Homo sapiens: one gene and its partners. The protein of the gene in region 4 purifies or fractionates together with the protein of the main gene of each other region. This does not show direct contact. Each region holds a gene or a part of one and is shown on either strand. Other genes may lie near its edges. The genes, in order: FUCA1, CERT1, PPP2R5E and MARK2.

Region 1 (7,030 bases), on a different chromosome or scaffold from region 4:
GCAGGAGAATTGCTTGAACCCGGGAGACGGCGGTTGCAGCAGACCGAGATCGCACCACTGCACTCTAGCCTGGGTGACAGAGTGAAGTTCGTTCATAAATAAATAAATAAATATACACATACATACATACATACATACATACATACATACATACATACATACAAATAATCCTGGGAAGGACCTCTGCACAACTTTCTTGTGTAACTCTAATTATTTCCTTAGGACAGGTTTCTGTTAGTCTATTCAATGTCCTTAAAAGGGTTCTATTGACCTGCACTTCTATCCAGAGTACTTCCATCACTCTTACATAAAAAAGCTGGTTTTGCAGCCATAAAAGAGAATGTGTCCTTTGCAGGGACATGGATGAAGCTGGACATCACTCTTACATAAAAAAGCTGGTTTTGCAGCCATAAAAAAGAATGAGTTCATGTCCTTTGCAGGGACATGGATGAAGCTGGAAACCATCATTCTTAGCAAACTAACACAGGAACAGAAAACCAAACACCACATGTTCTCACTCATAAGTGGGAGTTGAACAATGAGAACACATGGGACACAGGAAGAGGAACATCACACACCAGGGCTTGTTGGAATGTGGGGGTGAGGGGAGGGAGAGCATTAGGACAAATACCTAATGCATGTGGGGCTTAAAACCTAGATATCGGGTTGATAGTTTGCAACAAACCATCATGGCACATGTATACCTATGAAACAAACCTGCACACTCTGCACTTGTATCCCAGAATTTAAAGTAAAATTTAAAAAAAGAGGAAAAAAATAATTAAAATCAATCATATAGTATGTTAGAAGGTAATAATAATAATAATAATAATAAAAAGTGGTTTGAGATCCATAGTTAAAAAATAGTGAACTCAGGCCAGCTGCCATGGCTCATGCCTGTAATCCAGTGCTTTGGGAGGCTGAGGCTAGATCTCTTGAGGCCAGGAGTTTGAGACCAGCCTGGGCAACATAGCAAGACCCTGTCTCTACAAAAAATTTAAAAATTAGCTGGTTGTAGAGGTGCACACCTGTAGTTCTAGCTACTCAGGAGGCTGAGGTGGGAGGACCACTTGAGCCCCAGGAGTTTGAGGTTACAGTGAGGTATGATCGTGCCACTGCGCTATTGCCTGCATGACAGAGCAAGACCCCATTTCATTAAAAAAAACAAAAAACTCCCCTCTCCCTCTCCCTCTCCCCCCTCTCCCTCTCCCCACGGTCTCCCTCTCCCTCTCTTTCCACGGTCTCCCACTGATGCCGAGCCGAAGCTGGACTGTACTGCTGCCACCTCGGGTCACTGCAGCCTCCCTGCCTGATTCTCCTGCCTCAGCCTGCCGAGTGCCTGCGATTGCAGGTGCGCGCCACCACGCCTGACTGGTTTTCGTATTTTTTTGGTGGAGACGGGGTTTCGCTGTGTTGGCCGGGCTGGTCTCCAGCTCCTAACTGCGAGTGATCCGCCAGCCTCGGCCTCCAGAGGTGCCGGGATTGCAGATGGAGTCTGGTTCACTCAGTGCTCAATGGTGCCCAGGCTGGAGTGCAGTGGCGTGATCTCCGCTCGCTACAACCTCCACCTCCCAGCCGCCTGCCTTGGCCTCCCAAAGTGCCGAGATTGCAGCCTCTGCCCGGCCGCCACCCCGTCTGGGAAGTGAGGAGCGTCTCTGCCTGGCCGCCCATCGTCTGGGACGTGAGGAGCCCCTCTGCCTGGCTACCCAGTCTGGAAAATGAGGAGCGTCTCTGCCCGGCCGCCATCCCATCTAGGAAGTGAGGAGCACCTCTTCCCGGCCGCCATCCCATCTAGGAAGTGAGGAGCGTCTCTGCCCGGCCGCCCATCGTCTGAGATGTGGGGAGCGCCTCTGCCCCGCCGCCCCGTCTGGGATGTGAGGAGCGCCTCTGCCCGGCCGCGACCCCGTCTGGGAGGTGAGGAGCGTCTCTGCCCAGCCGCCCCATCTGAGAAGTGAGGAAACCCTCCGCCTGGCAACCGCCCCATATGAGAAGTGAGGAGCCTCTCCGCCCGGCAGCCACCCCGTCTGGTAAGTGAGGAGCGTCTCTGCCCGGCAGCCACCCCATCCGGGAGGGAGGTGGGGGTCAGCCCCCGCCCGGCCAGCCGCCCCGTCCGGGAGGGAGGTGGGGGGGTCAGCCCCCCGCCTGGCCAGCCGCCCCGTCCGGGAGGGAGGTGGGGGGGTCAGCCCCCCGCCCAGCCAGCCGCCCGGTCCGGGAGGTGAGGGGCGCCTCTGCCCGGCCGCCCCTACTGGGAAGTGAGGAGCCCCTCTGCCCAGCCACCACCCCGTCTGGGAGGTGTACCGAACAGCTCATTGAGAACGGGCCATGATGACAATGGCGGTTTTGTGGAATAGAAAGGGGGGAAAGGCGGGGAAAGGATTGAGAAATCGGATGGTTGCCGTGTCTGTGTAGAAAGAGGTAGACACGGGAGACTTTTCATTTTGTTCTGTACTAAGAAAAATTCTTCTGCCTTGTGATCCTGTTGATCGGTGACCCTACCCACAACCCTGTGCTCTCTGAAACGTGTGCTGTGTCCACTCAGGGTTAAATGGATTAAGGGCGGTGCAAGATGTGCTTTGTTAAACAGATGCTTGAAGGCAGCATGCTCGTTAAGAGTCATCACCACTCCCTAATCTCAAGTACCCAGGGACACAAACACTGCGGAAGGCCGCAGGGTCCTCTGCATAGGAAAACCAGAGACCTTTGTTCACTTGTTTATCTGCTGACCCTCCCTCCACTATTGTCCTATGACCCTGCCAAATCCCCCTCTGTGAGAAACACCCAAGAATGATCAATAAAGAATAAATAAATAAATAAATAAATAAATAAAAAACTGGACACCCTACTACCCACACCCACTTTAAGATATAGATTACAACCAACACCGTTAAAGCCCTTTTGCATGCCCTTCTCCATCCCAGCCCCCTCCTAAATTTTGTTTATAATGATCTCGCTTTTCTTCATAATTTTACCTCCAAAATATGCATCTGTAAACAATATGCTGTTTTTGCAAGCTTTTGAACATTATATAAAATAAATCATACTGCATGTTAAAAAAAAAAAAACAAAAACAAAAAACTCAAAGGTGCTCTTACCGAAATGATTTCAGATTCTTCTGTAACATCAGACAATGCCATGTCACGACGATAGCCCCAGGAAAACTTGTCAATGCTGGTGCACATCTCCCACTTGTGATCTGGCAAGCTCTGTGGCTTGAATTTATCTTCACAGTTATAGTATCCTCCATGGTGACAGGAACAGTTCTGACCCCATCGGTCATTTACTACCACCTCATCCTAAGGAGGGAAAGAATATTTGGTCATGAGGAGTAAAACCACTTGACTTCTTTATGTAATACACTTTGGTAAGGCTCTATTTGGAAGCAAGAAACTTAGTCTAGAGCAGTGGCTGTCAACTGGGGGCAATTTTGCTCTGGAGGGGACATTTGGTAAAGTCTAGAGACATTTTTGATTGTCACAACGGGGGTGGTATGCCATCTAGTGGGTAGAGACCAGGGATGTTACTAAACGTCCTACAATGCACAGGACAGCCCCCACAGCAAAGAAATATTCAGCCCTAAATGTCAACAGTACTGAGGTAGAGAAACCCTGCTGCAGAGATACATGTCAGGGCTGGGAGAGCTTGCTTTAAAGATCATCTGGTAAATCACTTTTTCTATAAGAGGAGAAATGAACAGGAGAGGACCTGCCTGGGGCCATGCCCCTAGGCAGTTTCAAAAGCTGGAACTACAAATCAGGTATCTGAACCCATGGCAGGCTGTTTTCCAACTATATAATCCCAGCCTTACTTACGTAAAAAAAAAGTCTTAAGACAATCCCACTCAAAAAAAAAAAAAATAGCAAATTCTTTTTCTTACTTCAAGGTTTAGCTGAAGAATGATAAATCATACATGGAATATCTTAATGTAAATGTTAAATGCAGCATATTTTATAACAGAGTGGCCAATACAAGATAAAAACTGAAACCATTTGGGAGGCCAAGGCAGGCAGATCATGAGGTCAGGAGATAGAGACCAACCTGGCTAACACGGTGAAATCCCGTCTCTACCAAAAATACAAAAAATTAGCTGGGCATGGTGGCACATGCCTGTAGTCCCAGCTATTTGGGAGGCTGAGGCAGGAGAATCGCTTGAACCTGGGAGGCGGAGGTAGCAGTGAGCCGAGATCGTGCCACTGCACTCCAGCCTAGGCAACAGCAGAGCGAGACTCCGTCTCAAAAACAAAAACAAAAACAAAACTGAAACCATGTTCAATTCATCACGGCAAAAAGAGATTTATTAAAAGTTTAAAATTCCCATTTCTTGCCTGTTTTAGAGTCATTCACATTGGTATGAAGTTTCTCCTATGGAAGCTAGTTAAGTGCCAAAGAGAAATAGAAGAATAGTCATTATTTGTAACTAGTTCAATCCAATGTCTGGTACTTGATTATCAATGTCTGGGCATCATGGGTCACAGAATTGAAAAGGACAACTCAAGATCAATTCAAGAACAGGTATGTAAAAGCCATTTCAGAGAAAAATGGGGTATTAACAATCCTAATTCTTCATTCAACACCTACCCATCCGCTTATTCAATAAGTATTTACTCAACAACTACCATGGGGCTCACACTGTGGGCAGATACTGGGTCTCCAAGGTGAATAAAACAGAGGTCTTGCCCTCAACCATCCAGCAGAGACTAGCAGAGGAGACAGATATGTGGACAATTACAATATGACATCATATCAGAGTTTATGCCTGGTTACAAGATTATCAAGGGCTTTGAGGTTCATAGCTGGCTCCACCACCTAGTAGTCAAGGGGTCTTAGGCAGGTAACTTTACCTTTTAAGTTAGTTACTTATCTATAAAAACAAACAAACAAAACCAACCAAACAAACAAAATCCAAAGGCAAATATCACCCACCTCACAGGGGTTTGAGAGGGAGGGATAAAAGTGACAGTGTGCCCAGACTCTGGCTCAGAGTGAATAAAGGTGTCTCCTTGCCACACCTCCTCTTTCTCAGAGTCCTCAGGTGATGTGAACGCTCCCTGTACACTCAGCCTGTCAAGGACAGACACAACCATGCACTCCTTCATCCCACAGAAGCTAATGCAGTACCCTCCACTTTGGCATTCGAACCAGTGTCTATGGATTGTGGAGACCTCAGGACATACTTCTACTATCATACTGGTCACCCTACAATGTACTTTGTTTGTATGTCTGTCTTTCTCTTCAGACTGTAGTTCCCTAAGAGCAGAAACCATTCATTCAGCATTTCCAAGGCTTAGCATGCGGCATGCTACGGCACCGGCTCTCAATAAATCCTGGTAGAAATGAAGGAGAATCTACAGTCCCCATATGTCTGCGAAGCTACTGTGAAGATGGGTTGAGGCACACCCACACAGAAGGTCCTGGTTGCTTAGGAATTATTGTTTAAGAGAGGCCGGCCGGGAGCGGTGGCTCACGCCTGTAATCCCAGCACTTTGGGAGGCTGAGGCGGGTGGATCACAAGGTCAAGAGTTTCAAGACCAGTCTGGCCAACATGGTGAAACCCCGTCTCTACTAAAAATACAAAAAATTAGCCAGGTGTGATGGTGTGCGCCTGTACTCCCAGCTACTCGGGAGGCTGAGGCAGGAGAATTGTGTGAACCCAGGAGGCGGAGGTTGCAGTGAGCCGAGATCGTGCCATTGTACTCCAGCCTGGGCGACAGTGCGAGACTCCCTCTCAAAAAAAAAAGAAAAGAAAAAAAAAAGCCAAAAAAGTTCAGGCTGTCTAGCTAGTCATGCTTTTTAAATGACACTGGGGTTGATATTTTCTTCCCTTTCCCAATCCTGCATCTTTGGCTAGTCATTTTTCCTTCTGTGATACTCCTTAAGCACAAACACTAGACTGTAACCTCACGTAGCAAGCGACCTAGCTCGAGGGGTATACACCCTGAACATATATACATAGACGCCATTTCAGAGACAAATGGGGTATTAACAATCTGAATTCTTGGTTCAACACCCACCTACTTTTCCTATTTATTCAGCAACTACCATGAGGCTCACACTGTGGCAGACACTGAGTTTCCAAGGTGAATAAAACAGAGTTCTTGCCCTCAACGATCCAGCAGAGACTAGCAGAGACAGATATGCAGACAATTACGATATGACATCACATCAGAGTTCATTACCTAGGGATGAACTGCACATCTGGGAGGTCACAAACATTCATCAAGTTCCAGAAAACCACTCTTTTTTTTTTTTGTGAGACAGAGTCTCGCTCTGTTGCGCAGGCTGGAGTACAGTGGCACGATCTCTGCTCACTGCAACCTCCGCCTCCCGGGTTTAAGCAATTCTCTGCCTCAGCCTCTCGAGTAGCTGGGATTAGAGGTGCCCACCACCACGCCCGACTAATTTTTGTATTTTCTTTTTTTTTGAGACAGAGTCTCGCTCTGTTGCCCAGGCTGGAGTGCAGTGGCGCCATCTTGGCTCACTGCAAGCTCCGCCTCCCGGGTTCACGCCATTCTCCTGCCTCAGCCTCCCAAGTAGCTGGGACTACAGGCATGTAAAAATTAGGCCCGGCCTAATTTTTGTATTTTCAGTAGAGACGGGGTTTCACCGTGTTAGCCAGGCTGGTCCTGAACTCCTGACCTCGTGATCCACCAGCCTCGGCCTCCCAAAGTGCTGGGATTACAGGCGTGAGCCACCACGCCCGGCCTTAGAAAACCACTCTTAATCTGTCTCTGTGCATCATATAGAATCTGTTTTTTTCTTTCTTCCCATTTTCTGAGCTTAGTAATAGAGACCCAATGAGACCCTTAGACTTTTTTTTTGAGAAGGAGTCTCACTCTGTCGCCCAGGCTGGAGTGCAGTGGCGCGATCTCGGCTCACTGAAAGCTCTGCCTTCCAGGTTCACACCATTCTCCTGCCTCAGCCTCCTGAGCAGCTGGGACTACAGGCACCCACTACCACGCCTGGCTAATTTCTTTTTGTATTTTTAGTAGAGATGGGGTTTCACTGTGTTAGCCAGGATGGTCTCGATCTCCTG
Region 2 (5,385 bases), on a different chromosome or scaffold from region 4:
TAGTCCCATTTATTGAAGACCTAGGCTCCATGTCATTCCCATAGTATATGTTTCCCCTTGCATACCTTAATATTGAAATATTTAATCTAAGTGACTTAGAATTCTTTCTAATGTGATTTGATTCAAATAAGTCTTTTTTCATTAAATCTTTGAATCTAAGTAGAACATAATCATGGAGTATGAGGAGAGAGGAATGGAAAGTTGTTGCTTACTGGGTACAGAGTTTCTGTTTGGGATGATGATAAATTTCAGAGATAGCAATATGGTTACATAACACTGTGAATGTAATTAATGTCCCTGAATTGTACCCTAAAAGTTAGTTAAAATGACAAATTATACGTGTATATATTTTACTGCAATTAAAAAAATAGAACATTATTCCTTTTATTATATTGTTCTGCAAAGCTATTAACTCTGTTCATAATTAATCATTTGGTAGATATCCTCAGATGCTTTCCATTTAAAATTTGAGAGATTTTACCTTCAATTAAGACATTTATTGGCATTACGTTTCTCTTGTTAGTTCCATGTTAGATCTGTTTTTCAAAAGATTTTTACTTCTCCACAGAGGGTGTGGCCTGCTTCTCAGCGAGACGTATTATATCTTTCTGTCATTCGAAAGATACCAGCCTTGACTGAAAATGACCCTGAAACTTGGATAGTTTGTAATTTTTCTGTGGATCATGACAGTGCTCCTGTAAGTACATGTATATAAATGTGTATAATTAAACAATATAAAGCTAAATACACAATGCGGGACAAAAATGATAAACACAGCCCATACACTATACTTGATTTGATAATGGTTCTTAGATTTTATGTTGGATTGACTGCTAGGAACAGTATAGCCCATGTGTTGTCTGAGGGCAACAGTCATGCCTATGAACATTCCACCAGGGCCGTTTACCTTTCCTTCTAATGTTTCGTGAAACAGCCAAAAGGGCAGTACATACACTGGGCAGTAGGCTACTTCCCACAGTTATCTCTTAAGCCGTTATCAACTGCCAGCCAAACCTCTGTGGTTTACCACAATTTAGCTCCATTTACTACTTAAGAGGAAGGGATCCTGGGCAACATGGTTAGACCCCATCTCTATTAAAAAAAATTTTTTTTTTTTTTTTAATTAGCCAGGCCTGGTGATGTGCACCTGTGGTCCCAGCTACTCTGGAGGTTGAGGCGGGAGGATTGCTTTGAGCCCAGGAGTTTGAAGCTGCAGTGAACTATGATGGCACCACTGCACTCCAGAGTGGGCAACAGAGCAAGACCTTGTCCCCAGAAAAAGTGGGTGGGGAGGAATCCTGGTGTCATATCAGCTTGGTGCTTATAAGATTTCACTGGAGATACTTTTAAGAGTTACGATTTTGGTTAACCTAATATAATATTAGACCAGCAGAGTTTACAAAATACTGGGTATCTACTGATGCTTTGTTTTTTGTTTTGGCAGCTAAACAACCGATGTGTCCGTGCCAAAATAAATGTTGCTATGATTTGTCAAACCTTGGTAAGCCCACCAGAGGGAAACCAGGAAATTAGCAGGGACAACATTCTATGCAAGATTACATATGTAGCTAATGGTATGTATTTTATTGTTTTTGCTCTTTGATAATGTGGCTGTTCTTGATCATGACCTATATGACAACAATTTGGACAAATGCCTTTTTAGTTCTTATCCATTAGATTACTAATTTTTAATTTGGAGAAAGGTATATCAGAATTACTAGAGAATCTTTGAAAGTACAGATGTCTGAATTTCACCCTGGAACTACTACTATATGAGTATTTCTGAAGCTAGAGCTGGATAGGAAAATTTTAAAACTTTATCCCTAGGTCACTGTATATACCCTTCTTTTTTTTTTTTTTTTTTTTTTGAGATGGAGTCTCGTTCTGTTGCCCAGGCTGGAGTGCAGTGGTGCAGTCTCAGCTCACTGCAGCCTCCGCCTCCTGGGTTCAAGCGATTCTCTGCCTCTGTAGCTGGGATTACAGGTGCCCACAACCACGCCTGGCTAGTTTTTTGTATTTTTAGTAGAGACGGGGTTTCACCATCTTGGCCAGGCTGGTCTTGAACTCCTGACCTCGTGATCCACCCACCTCGGCCTCCCAAAGTGCTGGGATTACAGGCGTGAGCCACTGCGCTCGACCTAGCCTTCATATTAAGCACCATTTTCTTAGATATTTGCCTCATAGAACAGATTTATTATTAGGAATATAAGCAACAGTGGGGAAGGAAATTAAGAGTTCTTTTACTCATTGTCAGCCTTTTTAGCTTTCTGAATCAATGTTCCCCTAGTCCTTATTAGTTGCTAGTTACATATTTATTTCTCTTTGACATTCATTGTCAGGCTTTTTGTTTTCTGAGTCAGCGTTTCCCTAGTCCTTATTAGTTGCTAGTTACATATATTTGTTTCACTTTGGATAGGTCTTTTCATTGCTTGCTTTGGGTCCTTACTTCACCTGCTTTGCACCTGGAGTAATCATTGCAACCTCTCTCATCAAAAGTCATACCTTCTTTATACAGGGCCATAACTGCTAGTATGTTCAAAGAAACAGTTGTACCTGAGTAAGTTACTATTTCATTATAGTACAGATTTGTGAATAATCTGCCCTAAATAACCTTAAGTGGTGCTATACTAATTTTTGCAGGTAATTTCGGGAACTAAGAACATTGTAGAAAGGTTATAGATGCTTTCTTATTTGCTGTCTGATTATGTCTGATGGATAGTGTTAAGGAATGAAGGGTTGGGACTTAAAAGATCATAATTGGTCCAGCTGGGTACAGTGACTCAGCCTGTAATCCCAGCACCTTGGGAGGCTGAGGCGGGCGGATCATGAGGTCAAGAGTTCGAGACCATCCTAGCCAACATGGTGAAAACCCATCTCTACTAAAAATACAAAATTAGCTGGGCATGGTGGCGTGCACCTGTAATCCCAGCTACTCCGGAGGCTGAGGCAGGAGAATCACTTGAACCCCGGAGGCGGAAGTTGCAGTGAGCCAAGATCGCGCCACTGCACTGCACCCTGGCAACAGAGCAAGACTCCGTCTCAAAAAGAAAAAAAAAAGATGCTAATTGGTCCAATGTGAGGAATATTTTAAAAACAAGGGAACAAATTAAGTGCTTCACATATGTTTGGAGAATTGTATCTTAATACATTTTAATTTTCCTTTATCTTGCAGTGAACCCTGGAGGATGGGCACCAGCCTCAGTGTTAAGGGCAGTGGCAAAGCGAGAGTATCCTAAATTTCTAAAACGTTTTACTTCTTACGTCCAAGAAAAAACTGCAGGAAAGCCTATTTTGTTCTAGTATTAACAGGTACTAGAAGATATGTTTTATCTTTTTTTAACTTTATTTGACTAATATGACTGTCAATACTAAAATTTAGTTGTTGAAAGTATTTACTATGTTTTTTGATGTTCCCCTATAGAGTATTGTTTCGTTGGTTTTTGTTGTTGTCGTTGTTGTTGTTTTAAACAGGGTCTTGCTCTGTTTCCTAAGCTGAAGTGCAATGACACCATCACGGCTCACTGCAACCTCAACCTCTGGCCTCAAACAATCCTCTCATCTCAGCCTTCCCAGTAGCTGGGAGTCCCCACAGGCATGTGCCACCATGCTCAGCTAATTTTTTATTTTTTGTAGAGATAGGGGTCTTGCTATGTTACCCAAGCTGGTCTTGAACTCCTGGCCTCAGACAATCCTCCTGCCTCAGCCTCCCAAAGTGCTGGGATTACAGACATGAGCCACCGTGCCTGGCCTTGAAAATTGTAGTTTATAGCCTTTAAAACTTAATTCTTTTATTGTTTCCTTTTTCTTCTAATGCTTATGTAAAGAAATTTTGATATTATAGAACTGTAGAATTGTAGAAGTGCAAACTTCCTGTATTCTTTCCTTTCCCAGAAACTGTTATTTTTGTTGTATATTCCTCCAGATTTTTCTGTGTATGTACTGACATATTTTTGAATGTTAAAATGTTTATACTTACTATTATACAAAATTCTTGTTTTATAACCTTTTTTTCACTTAACAATGTATCTTGACTATCTTTCTTTATAAGACATGAGATGTGTAAAACATCTCATTCTTTTAACATCTGTTACATGCATGTTGCAGAATTTATTAACTAGTCCCATGTTAATGTCTGAGTTGGTTCCATATTTTTACTGTCAACCAGTACAGCACTGAACACCTTTATGCAAAGAGGTAGAATCTTTAACTTTATTTTGGTGTTGTTGAGACAAAGTTTCTCTCTTGCTGCCCAGGCTGGAGTGCAGTGGTGCAATCTTGGCTCACTGCAACCTCTGCCTCCCAGGTTCAAGCGATTCTCCTGCCTCAGCCTCCCGAGTAGCTGGGATTACAGGCGTCCATCACCACGCCCAGCCTATTTTTGTATTTTTAGTAGAGGCAGGGTTTCACCATGTTGGCCAGGCTGGTCTCGAACTCCTTACCTCAGGTGACCTGCTCTCCTGGGCCTCCCAAAATGCTGGGTTTACAGGCGTGAGCCACTGCACTCAGCCCAAAATCTTTAACTTTTTAAAGTAAGTGATACGTTAACATGATTAAAAGCCAAAAGTGGCCAGGTGCAGTGGGTCACACCTGTAATCCCAACACTTTTTGGGAGACTGAGGTGGGAGAATGGCTTGAGGCCAGGAGTTCAAGTCTAGCCTGGATAACATAGCAAGATTCCATCTTGACAAAAAACAATTAGGCGTGGTGGTATACATGTATAGTCCTAGGTACTTGGGAGGCTGAAGCAGGAAGATCGCTTTGTCTGGGAGTTTGAGGCTGCAGTGAGCTGTGATTACACGACTGCACTCCAGCCTGGACAGGTAATGTCTGTCAAAAAATAAATAAATAAAGTCAAAAGTATGAAAAAGTTATACAGTAAAATTTACCCTGTCTTGCATTCACCATATAGTATTAACATATGCTATTACTAGTTTCTTCTAGAAAGTTTTTAATGCTTGAATGAACAAATACAAGTGTATTTTCTACACAGATACACTTTTTTTGTTGTTAAAGAAGCAGCAGCATACTATAAACACTGTTCAACATCTTATATTTGCATTTATTTTATCTTGAAGGTCTCACATATTTGTAAGGAGCTTCCTCATTTTGATGGTTATACAGTATCCCATTGTATAGATGTACATAATTTATTTAATCAGTTCTGCATTGGCGAATATTACAGTTTCCAATTTCTGCCAGAGCAGTGTCATAATTGTATCCATATGTCATTTTGTACTTGCAAGTTTATATGTGGGAAAATTAATAGATGTGGTACTACTGGCCCTGCTAGGGGTTTGTGCATAATTTAGATACTACTTTTCATAGAGGTTATAGTAATTGACCATCTCAACAGCAATAATGAATTGGAGTCCCTGTGTCCCACAG
Region 3 (7,238 bases), on a different chromosome or scaffold from region 4:
CCAAGATGGCACCACTGCACTCCAGCCTGGGCAACAGAGCAAGAGTCCATCTCAAAAAAAAAAAAAAAAAAAGCCAGGCACAGTGGCACACACCCGTAATCCCAAGGCGGGCAGATAACTTCAGGTTGGGAGTTCGAGACCAGCCTGACCAACATGGAGAAACCCCATCTCTAATAAAAAAAAAAAAATACAAAAATTAGCCAGGCATGGTGGCGCATGCCTGTAATCCCAGCTACTCGGGAGGCTGAGGCAGGAGAATCACTTGAACCCGGGAGGCGGAGTTGTGGTGAGCCAAGATCATGCCATTGCACTCCAGCCTGGGCAGCAAGAGGAAAACTCCTTCTCAAAAAAAAAAAAAAGAAACAAACAAAGAAAAGAAAAGTCATATGTTAACAGGAAAACATGAAAATTTAGTGAAAATAATTTAAGTATCACGGAAACAATATGAGAACTCTAATGTATTGTGCCACTCCATTATAAGCATTAAAGATACTCATCTAGGCTTAAAGAAATCTATGCTGCCTGCCCATTTTCTAACTGCAAAGCTCTTCACATCTTCAAGTAATTTTTGGAGCTATTCTGTAACTGGAAAACTTCCATTGATACATTTTCCCAAGATACTTAATATTATGAATGGGTTCTGGAGTTGAAAAACCCTTAGTGTACTTCAAGAATCTATACCAATGTATCACAGCAAGGTGAAATTTACTACTACTGAAACTATCTAGGCATAACTTTTAATGGGATGTGCTATGTTAGCTATGATAAACTATACCACACTGCAAATGAGGACAGGCTAGATTACTTTAAACAAAACACATAAAAGGCATAATTAAAATATTTCAAATAAGTCTTCTTTTTGAATGAAGCCACCTTACGTTATTAACGCTTAATAAAAACTATGAGAAAATCAAGCACCAAAGTTGAACTGAAAACATAAATTCACAGCCTACTGAAACAACCAAGTTGAGTTCCCTTGAGGTTTAGACCTTGAAGTTCATCATCAAATACCAATTTTCATTCCATCAAACTTACGGAACTGAATAGCACTTTTGAATTGTTTAACCCTCTCGAGTTATTAAAATGAAGGCTATTTCCTGAAAGTAACAAGCGTTAAGCTTAATTTCATTCACCAAATTAAACAGATGCCATCATTTCCATGGCACTGAGGCTTCATGCAAGACTAATGGCAGACTCGGATAGAAAGAATGCATATGGGGGAAATGCTGAAATGCAATTACTCACCTGTCATTCCAATAGACAAGACAAGTGGTTTTTAACTTCTAAATAAAACAGTAAGGGAATTTCTTCCTGAACACGTGAGAATAAAAAGTTACCTGGATTACGTGGATTTTGACAATGTAAAAATAACAAAAACATTTTAAAACACATGCACACATATGATGTTGACGTTTGGAATTTGGAAGTCTTCTTTGGTTTTCTTTAAAAAAAAAAAAGTTTTTAAAAATCTACCTAATTTAGCCTTAATATAATGTGATGGATTCAAAATAGAATCACAAACTATGAATGACTATAGATGTTAAGATCACTTTAAAATATCAAAATGACTGCATCAGCCAAAAGCTCCACATCTTATTTGTACGTTGTAAATTTAGGGGCCGATTTTCCATTCGGGTATGTGAATTATTTAGACTTCACTCTAACTCTAACACTACAACATTTCAGTAAATCCTCTTCCTCCATCACTCTTTTCGTCTCTTCTTTATTCCTTATCTCTCATCTCTACAGACGATATATAGGTAGCTTTTAAAAAAATCATTTACCCCTTATGCCCGAGGCCCAGAATAAACGTCAAGGATCGCAACCCTGAAGCACTGCAAAACTGAACGTAAGGTAACAGCGGGTCCGTGCAAAGCCCAGGGAAACAGGTTTCGCCCTGGGCCAGGGCTCCCGAAGCTTTATCATCCTCTAATCAGCAGGCATGGGGCATTTCCATGGCTCAGGATAATCCAAAGGGGGTAAGGGGAAGTAGGGAAAGACAGGGAAGGGGTTTGTCTGTGGGGATGCTTACATACTCCCTTTGCTCCTAACCCACACCCCAAGCCCTGGAGACGATAAGCTGCTAGAGAATCCTCCTCACACCAAACCCCTCTTTATTCCCCGCCCCCGCCAGTGGATAAAGGGGGGCAAGAAAACGCCTCCAATCCCAGAAGGTGGAGAAAAAGGGGGGAGGGGGCAGAGTGAATGAGAGGTATCATCAGAAGCATTTGTAGGTAAATCAGACAAGTGGGACGGGCGCTCCCGCTCCCGCACCCCACCCCACCGCACCCCTCGCCTGCCCGGCCAGGCCTTCCCAAGGCCGGTGCCCCATAGGTTCCCCAGGAGGACCGGGAGGAAGAAGGGAAGCGGGCGAGCCGCGGTGCTGGAGGGACTAAGTTACCTTGAAGCTTCTGGGGAAGAATCCAAAGATGATCTGTGGCTTGGAGGGGCGGGAGACGGGCGAGGTGGCCGCAGCGGGGGCGGGCGGCGGGACCGGGACGTGCAGGGGGAGGTCCGGGCAGCTGCGGGGAGCCTGGGGCGACGGCTGTCCGGTACGGGGTCCCTCCGGTTCCGCGGCGGCGGAGCCTCTAGGCCTCACGGCCGGACCCGAACCTCAGCGTTCCGGTGGCGGCGGCGGCCTCACGATCCTCCCCCGCGGGCCCGTCCCATCAAATCGGCACCGACCCCGTTGCGGCTCCGCCGGTGGCTCCTCGCTCACATTCCTGGCGGGCGGCGCCTCAGCTCGTTGCCCCGGACCCGGCGGCGGCGGCGACGACGTGGGGAGGGGGGGAAGGGAGGGAGGAAGACTGGATCTGCAGCGGCAGCAAGAGAAGGGGACAGAATAAGGAGGAGGAGCCGCAGGAGCTGGAGCCGCCGCTGCCAGAGCCACCTTTCGCTACCCGCGGTGGGTCCCAGTCAATGCCCCTTTCTCTCTCCTATTGTCAATATCACCGGGCGGCTGAGTCCATGGCACACGCGCAACCGAACCTTCTGGCCAGCAGCGCCCGCCTCCGGCGCCCGCCCACTGGAGACTTCAAACGGGAAGCGAGGCCTCATTGGCCAGTATCCGCCTTCACTCCCCTGACAGCATGTTCGGCTGAGACCTGATCAGGGATTGGCGGCAGGAGGGCGGAGAAACGGGAGGGTGGGAAGAGAGAAGGTCGAGGATTGGGCCGAAGCTTGAGGAACCCGGATGCAGCCGCGATCTCGGGCGGTGCAGCCGCCGCTTCCGCCCGGCAGTGGGGCAAGCTGAAGTGAGAAGCCGCTGGGCCTGAGAGGAGCTCTTTAATTCCGGGAGGTGTGCGACTAGCGGATCAGCGGGCTGGCTTTCCGTGCTGTGCGGAGCCTTTGGGCGGCGGTCGTCTTGGACCGGAGGATTCCAAGGGCTCGGGTCGTCTAAGGGTCGGGGAGCCCCGGAGACTTGATCCCGCCCTGCAGCTAGTGTGGCCCCTCAGGGTTTGGGGAGTCCCACTCTGGACGGGACCCTGTGATGCGTAGGCAGGAATAAGATCCCCCGCCCGTGCCGGTGTGCCACTGCTTGTGTAAATGGGCCCCTTGAAACCCCCAGCAGTCGCTCTCCGCTGAACCTTCTTCGAATTTTCTCTCACCTCATCTCCTTTTCCTTAAACGTCTGTTTTGAATATCAGACCCCTGTAGCGTTGAAGCCAGCGCTCGTTTAATTAATGCAGGTGGGAACGCTGTCGCCACAGTTTGCAGTCTATTCATTCAGAATAACCCGCCAGTCAGCCGACTGCTCAGAGCTCGGAAAGACCCAGCTCCAAACTAGGAGTTTCGAGATTTTAATTGGCAAGTTGGACCCGAAAGAGTTAATGGAGAAGACTACTTAAATCTATCTAGAACAAGTGATGAGATATTTGGAGATGTGTTTGCATGCTTGGTGAATGCAGACGGCCAAATGGTACATTTCCAGATAATATTCTTGGATTAATGTATTTGAATGCACCCTACGTACATTTTTTGAGAGGAAAAAAGGAAGAAAGAAATTATTAATGCTAACTACAAACGTCAGAGTACCAGTTGTTCAAAACTTAGAAATTGGGGGGGGGGACAAAAAAATTAACATTCTTATTTTCTCAACTCAGAGATAACCACTTACAGTATTTGCATACTTCCTTTTAGTATTTTTTCTCTTTATGTTAATAATGTGTGTCGATCTGTAGCCTAGTTTTTTCCCTCAGCATTATATCATCTTTTCGATACGGTTAGGGAATAGAGCTATATATAAATAAAACTATATGTACCATATGTACAAGTGACAACGAAAAATGCATTTGCATTTCTCCTGTTTGTGTTGTTAAACACTAGAGTTTTGAAATTTTCTTTGCACACTCCCAGAAATGGCTCTTGAGTGGAAAAATAATTTTGTGCCATGAAAGATAAAAATATTCCTGCTTTGAACTGAAATGGAAAACGAAAAGATGACTCTTAGATGGAAGCAGTCTCCCCCTACTGACTCCAGATGATTGGCCACTGTATGGCTAGTGCCCACTTTTGCCGTGATAAAGTTCATCACCACTAAGTATGAACTATAGAATACCAGCAGTCTAGTTCCTACCCTCAAGAACCTTAAATTTTCCATATCTCAATATCCTGTACAGTCTTCATGAAAGTTCAGTGTCCCAGCCAAGGACCTGTTTTCTTCAATCTTTGATTGAGGGTAAATTCAGAATTAAAACCAAGGAAGATTTTGAAGCCAATTCAATTTCCCTTGGCAACAGTTGAACTGTTAAAAGCATAGTGCACGTTTGAAATTCTCACAGCTGTTGCTTAGAACATGTCATAGAGTGGGGATTTTGCTTGCAAATTATGGATCTCTATAAAGACAATTCATTTCAAAGTCATTTCACTTTCTATAAAATGGCTGAGCAACTGAAATGAGCAGGTTTTTTAAAATGGAAACATCCTTGCCTATGTGAGAAATTGTTCTCTGGACCAGTAATTTCTCCCATGTATCCCAGGGATTTCGGTACTCCAAGAATAGTGCAAGACAATCTATTTCGGATGCAGTAAAAGAAAGTATTAGGAAATATATTTACATTTAATTTTAATCTAAAAGGCATTACGGTCAACTACTATTTTATATAGAGTGAATGGCTCTGCCCTCAGTCCATGGAATGGTGCCTTGGCCTAGAACAGCATAGGAGATGTCCTCAGGGAAAAGTGGGAGTTACCCATTCCTAGGGGTTGGCAGTGGTGGGCCCACCCAATCAGCCCCTGACAACATATGACTTATTGCGGTTTCTTATTGCAGTTTCTGGATTCAACTAAGTGGACTTACTGATTATATTATCTAAGTTTAATTAAACTAACCCTCATAAAACAGACAAATGACTCTATGAGTCCTTTGCAAATAAACCACGGGAGAACAAGAAGAAAATGTTAGAACTGACTCTTCAGTATCAAATCTTTTTTTTCTTTTTTTTTTTTTTTTTTTGGTATTTTTAGTAGAGACGGGGTTTCACCATGTTGGCCAGGCTGTTCTCAAACTCCTGACCTTGTGATCCACCCGCCTCGGTCTCCCAAAGTGCTGGGATTACAGGCATGAGCCACCACACCCAGCCCAGTATCAAATCTTTGACAGCCACTTTTCAAAAGTAAAATACCAATCTAATAAATTCAATCAAATTTTGACTAGAAAAAAAATCAAGGCTACTTGAAATGTAAATTTACATCCACTGTTGTTGTTGTTGTTGTTGTTGTTGTTGTTGTTGTTGTTGTTGTTGTTGTTTGAGATGGAGTCTCGCTTTGTCGCCCAGGCTGGAGTACAGTGGCGCAAACGACTCACTGCAACCTTCACCTCCCGGGTTCAAGCAATCCTTCTGCCTCAGCCTCCCAAGTAGCTGGGATTACAGGCATGTACACCTGGCTAATTTTTGTATTTTAAGTAGAGACGGGGTTTCACCATGTTGGCCAGGCTGGTCTCGAACTCCTGACCTCAAATGATCCACCCCACTCGACCCCCCAAAGTGCTGGGATTACAGGCGTGAGCCACTGCACCCAGCCTACATCCACTGTTATTAAGAATTGAACTTCATTCTAAGTGTATATGTTGATTGAGTTAAGCTAATGATGGTAGCGTATGTCTATACTTTATGGACAAATACACATATATTTGGAAGAATTTTTTTGGCTGGATGTCACAGCTAATGCCTGTAATCCTAGCACTTTGGGAGGCTGAGGAGGGTGGATCACTTTAGCCCAGGTGTTTGAAACCAGACTGGGCAACATCGTGAAACCCCTTATCTACGAAAAAAATTTCAAAATCAGCCAGGCCTGGTGGCACGCTCCTGTTGTCCCAGCTACTGGGAGGCTGAGGTGGGAAGATCACCTGAGCCCAGGTGGTCAATGCTGCAGTGAGCTATGATCATGCCACTGCATTCCAGCCTGGGAGAGAAAGTGAAAACCTGTCTCAAAAAAAAGAAGTTTGGAAGCCAGGCACAATGTCACAGGCCTGCAGTCCCAACTACTCCACAGGCTGAGGTCGGAGCATCACTTGAGCCCAGGAGTTGGATTCTGTAGTGTGACATGATGTAGCCTGTGAATAAAAACATTCTAGGCCGGGCACAGTGGCTCACGCCTGTAATCCCAGCACTTTTGAGAGGCCGAGGCAGGTGGATCACAAGGTCAGGAGTTCGAGACCAGCCTGGCCAATATGGTGAAACCCCGTCTCTATTAAAATACAAAAATTAGCTGGGTTTGGTAGCAGCTGTCTATAATCCTAGCTACTCAGGAGGCTGAGGCAGGAGAATTGCTTGAACCCAGGAGGCGGAGGTTGCAGTGAGCCAAGATCCCAACACTGCACTCCAGCCTGGGTGACACAGCAAGACTCCATCTCAAAAAACAAAAAAAAATGAAAAGAAAAACATTATAGCCATCTGAGAGGCCATTATCAAGTGACAAAATGTAGTCTATTGCTCTCACATGAAAGCATTCACTTCCCAGATATCAAAGCTGAGCTTATCATGAATCTACTAGTGAGCTAGCCACGTGATAAGACCAAGACATTGACTATCAAATGATGGCTGGCTGGGGAACTAAAGGAGAACTAAAATAATAAGTAGAAGCATCGTCAGAACAATTGTCAACCAGTAGAGGAGGAAAAGACCTATGCTGATTAGATATCATGATCAGAGGTAGACTAGTTTGGTGTGTGTGGAGTGGCGGGGTACATGAAGCTGGTCGTGGACTGAGAGGAAAGAACAGTGAGGGTGAGAAAG
Region 4 (7,030 bases):
AAATAGGGTGGTTGTCTAGCTCATGCACGGCCTTCCCTGTGGCTGGGAAGTTGGGGAAGCTGGAGGAGGGCTGGCTGTGGGGACGTGCTACCCGGGATGGCATCAGGATGAGCCAGCCATGCCCTCTGCTGCGTCTACCAAATCCAGCCCCAAAACAGCAGGCAGGTTTTGGCTGGGTGCCTCTACTGGAGGGAGTGTGAGCCCGTGTGCGTGAATATTCAGAATCCGAGCTGCTGCCTTGGTTCAGTGACAGTACACACCCCAGCTTGGTCTGTGTAAAGGGGTGGTAGAGCACCAGAGGGGGACCCCATCATTTTCTGATTTACAGTAGTCAGAGGGCTCTGTTCTAGGGGATAGGCCTTTCCTTCCTGGGCCTCTAGGGTGGTGACAGAAGAAGCCACTCCTATATATAGCTGATGCCAATTTTAATCAAATCCACCTCCACACACTCACGCTCTCTTTGTGAAACAAAACCAGGGGCTCCAAACCATGTATTTCCATAAAGAAAGATGACAGAAATGAACTCCTTCCCCTCTGCGGGGGCCAGAGAACTGGAGGTGGGGCTTTTTGTAATTTCAGGCCTCATCACTTGCACAAAGAACAGAACTAGTTTTTGTTGTTGTTTTTGTTGGGGGTAGGGGAAGCCCTAATTCAAGATATGGTTTATGGAATAAAGTGAATACATTTGTTTCCCCTTTAATGATGCCCCAGAGCTTTCCTAAGCTAGAAAGGAAAAGAAGAAAAAGGCTTTCCAATCCTCAGGAACCCAATGCTGACCTTACCCTTTATTAGGGCCTAGGTTTTTCTTACTTTTTTCCCTGGTCCAACAGATATTTTGGATGGAGAGGCAAAAAGCCTGGATACCACCCTCTGGGGCAGTAATGGGGAGCAGCTCTGAAATAGGGCCAGAGGCAGCTGCCAGGGCTTCTTCCCCTGAGGCTGCTCACCTGGCATGGAAGTGACATTCTTCTGGGAGAACTTGGGGTTTTCTGGGCTTGTCTAGACCCCTGAGGGGGCTAGCTTCTTCAATGTTCATTTTTCAGGGATCATTGCTGAGATCACATTTTTGGCCAGAATCAGACTGGCTTTAGTAACAAAGAGTCTCAAAAGGTTTTGAAAATGGCTCTATTTGTCTGGTGTTGGTGCCTTCCAGAGAGTCAGGAAGAATTAGGGAGAAAACCAAGAAGAATTAGGGAGAAAAACAAGGTCAGGAATAAGATGGCTTGGTGGACTGGCGATTATTACGATGGCAGGCTAGACTGCTCCCAAGGCCAAATGGCCTACCCCACGCTGACTTCTTCTGTGGGGCTGGAGCCAGGATGTCATAAGCAGCCCTTTTTCCCTTCCTCCTGGAAAGCTTCAAGCAGAGACACCCTGATGATGACAACAATGTTTCTACTGAACTGAAGAACCCTTGAAGGGATCCCAGGGGTAACAATAAATAGGAAACACCTTGGTTCTGGCTATTTGCATGTCCGGAGAACAACTCATCCACTCTAATTCCATGAGCATCGCCCTCAACAACAATCCTCAGCCCTTACTCCTAAGGTTCCCAGTATCACTATCTGACTCTGTTAGCACGAATCATGCCTTCTCCTAACTCAACTGCCACAATATGCTTATGGAGAAAATATCTGATTTGCCACAAGATGAACAGAACTAGGTTTTGTTCAGAAAATTTGAGCTGGAGCTCATTCTCTAAAAGGTAGCTGGCACAGAACCCACCGGCAGGTTCCCTGCTTCCTCTTATTCTTGTATTTCTAAAGCCACTCCCCTGTATCATTCCAGATCTTGAAGTAGCTGCACGTGTTTCTAGTAGTGGCTACAAACATGTGTTTTTGCATAGGGCTGGCCACAAGCCAGAAGATAACAAGATGCAGGAAGTAGGTCAGACAGGTAGGCCAAGTGGCTGGGAATGAACAGAAAGACTTCACAAGAGCCAGTGCCTATGGCCAGGAAGCCCACTCAGGAGGAGTCACCACAGATGATCCAACCAAAGCCCCGAAGGTAGCAGAGCCATGGGAGGGAATGGTTGGGGGACGGTGAGCGAAATGGCCAGAAAATTTAAACTAGGAATTCAAGAGAAGGTCTAAATGGGGTCAGTAGATCATTGACCCCAGAAGAGAGATTTAGAAAGGGACAGGTGGGCTGGGGGCAGTGGTTCACGCCTATAATCCTAGCACTTTGGGAGGCCGAGGCGAGCGGATCACTTGAGGTCAGGAGTTCGAGACCAGCCTGGCTACCATGGTGAAACCCCATCTCTACTAAAAATACAAAACTTAGCCAGGTGTGGTGGCGGGTGCCTATAATCCCAGCTACTCGGGAGGCTGAGGCGGGAGAATCGCTTGAAACCAAAAGGCGGAGGTTGCAGTGAGCCGAGATCACACCATTGCACTCCAGCCTGGGCGACAAGAGTGAGGCTCTGACTCAAAAAAAAAAAAAAAAAAAAAAAAAAAAGGGACAGGAGGTGCCATGTGCTTACTTTCTGGAGGCTGGAGGAGTTCAGTTGAGTCTTGTCAATGATCTTCACAGCTACCTGAGGATGAGACAAAAAGGCCCCAAATCACTTCTCTGACCAGCGAAACCCAGGATTCCAATCTACTTCCTCCTTTATATTTCTTACTCCTTTTCATCCCACAGCTTTTTGCACCCCTATATCTCAGATCTCATTTCTGCCGGATAAACAAGAGGTTGGCTGCAGTAGTAGTCCCATCACCACCTGCTGGAGTGTCAACAGGGCTGGGAGGTGCTGCCATGTCCCCAGTCCCAGTGCTCACCTCTTTCCCAGTCAGGATGTGTCGGGCCAACTTCACCTTGGCAAAATTACCCTTGCCAATGGTCTTGAGGAGCCGGTAGTTTCCAATGTGGGGCTGCTCATCAGCAGAGGTGGCTGAGTTGCGGCCCCGAATCATGTTGGACTTACTGCTGGGCTTGGAGTCAAGGTGTCCCAAGGTGGGCTGCGGGGTGGAAACAGAGATACCATTACATGCCACACTTCCAGTCCTCTAAACGCTCTCTGCAAAATATATAAGGGATGAGGGTGCAGGGGCAGATTCCAGGGGGCTGGTAGGCATGTGAAGAATGATATGGCAGCAGAAGAAAGGAGAGGGGGCTGAGGTGACAGCCAGTCTTCACTCCAGAGAAGCACATCATAAGGTCCAGTGCCCAGGTCCTGTGGGTGGCAAAGCTCAGGAGCAGAGCTGTCCCATCACTGGCTCCCTGAACCTCCATTGGCAACACAACAGCTCGTCTGGTTCAGGAGGGAGAGCCGGTACCCTGCCTCCCTCCATGCTGCCTGTGCACACTGCGAGAAGACTGCATCTCAAAGTCATGGTAGCTACATGGTCATAACTGCTTCAACGCCCTCATCGCCACCCAAAACTTACATGAACCTTTATTTTTTATTTATTTATTTTTTTGAGACAGAGCTTTACTCTTGTTGCCCAGGCTGGAGTGCAATGGTGCGATCTCAGCTCACCGCAACCTCCACCTCCCGGGTTCAAGCAATTCTCCCACCTCAGCCTCCCGAGTAGCTGGGATTACAGTCATGCGCCACCACGCCTGGCTAATTTTGTATTTTCAATAGAGATAGGGTTTCTCCATGTTGGTCAGGCTGGTCTCAAACTCCTGATCTCAGGTGATCCGCCCGCCTTGGCCTCCCAAAGTGCTGGAATTACAGGCGTGAGCCACTGCGCCCAGCCATAATAACTTTGTTGGGTAGAAACGTAGTAGCCCTTCCTGCATGGAAGGACTGCATGGCCGAAGTCGAACCCGAGTCTCCCGCGTAGGAGACGAAATTTCTGCCGCTGAACTACGAATGCCCCACTGAACCTTTGTTATTTATCACTTTACATTTATTTGCCATCTCCCCCAGTAAAAATGGAAGCACATGAAAGCAGGCATATATTCTTTATTCACTGATACATCCCAGCACTTAGAGAGACTGGCTTATGTTTGCTGCTCAATGAATACTTGTACAATGAAAGAACTGAACGATTAGGTCTGAGCAAGGCAGCAGTCTGCCCTGCTCTGCCACCCGGCTCAAATGAGGGGATGAGGAAGCAGAAGCTACAACTACCAGCACTGAAGAGGCATATAAACATAATACGGGTTGAATATCCTTTATCCAAAATGCTTAGGACCAGAAACGTGGCAGATTTTAAATTGTTTTGGATTTTGGAATATTTGCATATACATAATCAGATATCTCAGGGATGGGACCCAAGTCTAAACATTTATTTTTCATGTGTACATTATATACATGGCCTGAAGGTAATTTCATGACATTTTAAAATAATTTTGTGCATGAAATAAAGTGATTGAATTTTGCTTATAACCTGTCATATGGGGTTACGTGTAGAATTTTCCACTTGTGGCATCATGCTGGCACTCAAAAAGTTTAGATTTTGGAGCATTTTGGCTTTTGGATTACGGATGTTCAACCTGTACAAAAAGGGTATGGTCTAGACAAAAAACATACATCTATGTGAAGACGTGTACATTCCTCAAAGTGCTAAACACAGACTATATGAGCCAGCAATTCCGCTCCTCAGTATATACAAAAGAGAAATGAAAACAGAAATCCACAAAAAACCTGTAACCAAGGTTCACAGCACCATAATCCATAATAGTCAAAAAGTGGAAACAATTCAAATGCCCATCAGCTGGATGAACGGATAGACAAACGTAGCATATCCTTACCGGGGAATATTGGTTGGCAGTAAAAAAGAATATATGCTACAACACAGAAGAAACTTGGATAAACTTATGGTATCTCACTAAAACTGTTCAGAGTCTAGGCCAGGCAAGGTAGCTCATGCCTAAATCCCAGCACTTTAGGAGGCTGAGGCAGGAGGATCACTTGAGGCCAGGAGCTTGAGACGAGCCTGGGCAACATAGGGAGACTCTGTCTCTACAAAAAATTAAGAAATTAAGAAATCTTGGGAGGTTGAGGCAGGTGGATTGCTTGAGGTCAGGAGTTCGAGACCAGCCTGGCCAACATAGTAAAACCTTGTCTCTACTAAAAATACAAAAAATTAGCTGGGCATGGTGGATTACAGGTGCCTGTAATCCCAGCTACTAGGGAGGCTGAGGCAGGAGAATTGCTTGAACCCAGGAGGAGGAGGTTACAGTGAGCTGAGATCGCACCACTGCACTCCAGCCTGGGCAACAAGAGTGAAACTCCGTCTCAAAAAAAAAAAAAAAAAAAAATTAAGAAATCAACTGGGTGTGGTGGCATGCACCTATAGTCCCAGCTGCTCTGGAGGATGAGGCGGGAGGATCGCTTGAACCCAGGAGGAGTTCGAGGCTGCAGTGAGCCATGATCATGCCATTGTACTCCAGCCTGGGTGATAGAGCGAGACCCTGTCTCAAAAAAAAAAAAAAAAAATGCAGAGTCTGGTCTAACTCCTGATTAGCGCCCTGGTTTACATCTCACAAAGAACATCTGGAGCGATCGCTCCAGCATACTGCAACAAAGCATATGAGGCCAGAGCCTCATCCCAGAACCATCCAGAGCTGCCTTGGAAACTTCAAGGAAACAGTCTGGAGGGCAGCAGGGTGACCAGAGGAGTGTGAGTGAAAGTTCTTCCTTTCATGGCCCCTGCTGGCTGTACGTGAAGCACTCAAAAACCACAGAGAAAAAAAGAATGACTTGCTACTACCCAAGGAACTGTCCAGCATTCCTAGACAAGAAGCTTGCTAGCTCAACCAGATGCTTTTCAGGCAGAAACGACAGCAGCAAGTTAAGTACAGTATCCTGATTCTGACATTTCCCCTTCTTCACTGTGCCCACGTAGGGCCTTTGCATGGTAGCTGCAGGCTGTCTTTTGGTGAGCTGTTTGACCAGATCCCAGAAACACATGGGGTTGGACCTTGGAGGAGGAAGATCCCATGCATTTGGTAGATGTTTGAAGGGGGAGGCTCCTCACATCCCAGAAGAGGCCCTTTTAACTTCCTTCTCTCTTCCTCATCAACCTTTGCATCTCCATGAAGCCCCCCAGCTCTTATTGTCTGCTCATTCCAGCCCACAGAGCTCTCTGGTGCTCTGTTCTCCACGCACCCTGTAGCTCACCTAAGCCTGGTTGGTCCTCAAACAGTGTCTGCAAGACAAGTGGATTTTTAAATACCTGCTTTTTTCCCTTCCAAAGGAACTCTAGGGTTCACACCCCTTGGAGAGAAGGGCATTTCTAGGCCCTGCTGGCACCTGATTGGGCCAGCCTCCTGAAGGGTACCCTAGCCCTGTCCAGCAGGGTACTGAAAGCCTGGTCTCCTCAGGCTACCTTTTTCTCAGCCCCATCCTCCCTTTCAGTGCTGCTAGACTGCCTCCAACCCTACCCATCTGCCTAACGGGCAATGAACAGGAAAAAACCTTCCTTCTGCCCCAACTCCTACGAGAGGAAGATGGGTGGGAAAGTTTCCTTGGCAACCTCTAGTTCACCTTCTAAGTTTGTTGTCACTCCCTGTTTCTCCGAGGATATAAGCCCAAGGCAGCAGGAAGTGTGACGGTCTCTAAGTTCTCAAAATCCAGACCAGGGATTTAGCATCTACCTGCAGACTTGGGCCTTTTGCCAACTGAGACCAAATCTGGGCATCCCATGCCCATCCTGAGCTCTGCTCTGCCCATCCCTCTTGGTGAACCGAGGGGCTGGTCTGTGTGGCACAGCAGGTCAGCATTCCCTGCCTGGCCCTGCTGCACAAGTGGGCCTCAAGGAGCTTAACAACCACAAGCAAGATTGTACCATTCATTCTCTTCCTTTCTGGTTAAGACTGTAGATGTCGGAGATAAGCTGCCAGGTTTCAAATCCTAAATCTGTCACCTACTCAGCACATATTAACTTTATTATTATCATCAACATCATCAAGCCAGGCACAGTGGCTCATGCCTTTACAGGCAGCACTTAGGGAGGCAGAGGCAGGAGGATAGCTTGAGCCCAAGAGTTCAAGACCTGCTGTTCACAAAAAGGAAAAAAAAAAAAGAATATATTTAAAAAGGCAATACAGTGAGACCCCCATTCACAAAAAGGAAAAC

Evidence for each region.
Region 1: the proteins of MARK2 (region 4) and FUCA1 purify together in Homo sapiens (affinity purification with mass spectrometry; 4 studies listed by BioGRID and IntAct, with this or other methods). This does not show direct contact.
Region 2: the proteins of MARK2 (region 4) and CERT1 purify together in Homo sapiens (affinity purification with mass spectrometry; 3 studies listed by BioGRID and IntAct, with this or other methods). This does not show direct contact.
Region 3: the proteins of MARK2 (region 4) and PPP2R5E purify together in Homo sapiens (affinity purification with mass spectrometry; 2 studies listed by BioGRID and IntAct, with this or other methods). This does not show direct contact.

What each region holds. Positions count from the first base shown.
Region 1 is NC_000001.11:23,851,268-23,858,297, forward strand, and holds part of FUCA1 (tissue alpha-L-fucosidase precursor), read right to left. Parts: intron 3,294-7,030; coding exon 3,093-3,293; intron 1-3,092. UniProt on the Homo sapiens protein: Alpha-L-fucosidase is responsible for hydrolyzing the alpha-1,6-linked fucose joined to the reducing-end N-acetylglucosamine of the carbohydrate moieties of glycoproteins.
Region 2 is NC_000005.10:75,377,261-75,382,645, reverse strand, and holds the end of CERT1 (ceramide transfer protein), read left to right. Parts: intron 1-568; coding exon 569-697; intron 698-1,444; coding exon 1,445-1,574; intron 1,575-3,172; coding exon 3,173-3,300; 3' UTR 3,301-4,871; downstream 4,872-5,385. UniProt on the Homo sapiens protein: Shelters ceramides and diacylglycerol lipids inside its START domain and mediates the intracellular trafficking of ceramides and diacylglycerol lipids in a non-vesicular manner.
Region 3 is NC_000014.9:63,540,378-63,547,615, forward strand, and holds the start of PPP2R5E (serine/threonine-protein phosphatase 2A 56 kDa regulatory subunit epsilon isoform), read right to left. Parts: upstream 3,001-7,238; 5' UTR 2,402-3,000; intron 1-2,401. UniProt on the Homo sapiens protein: The B regulatory subunit might modulate substrate selectivity and catalytic activity, and might also direct the localization of the catalytic enzyme to a particular subcellular compartment.
Region 4 is NC_000011.10:63,891,086-63,898,115, reverse strand, and holds part of MARK2 (serine/threonine-protein kinase MARK2), read right to left. Parts: intron 2,958-7,030; coding exon 2,778-2,957; intron 2,537-2,777; coding exon 2,483-2,536; intron 1-2,482. UniProt on the Homo sapiens protein: Serine/threonine-protein kinase. Involved in cell polarity and microtubule dynamics regulation. Phosphorylates CRTC2/TORC2, DCX, HDAC7, KIF13B, MAP2, MAP4 and RAB11FIP2. Phosphorylates the microtubule-associated protein MAPT/TAU.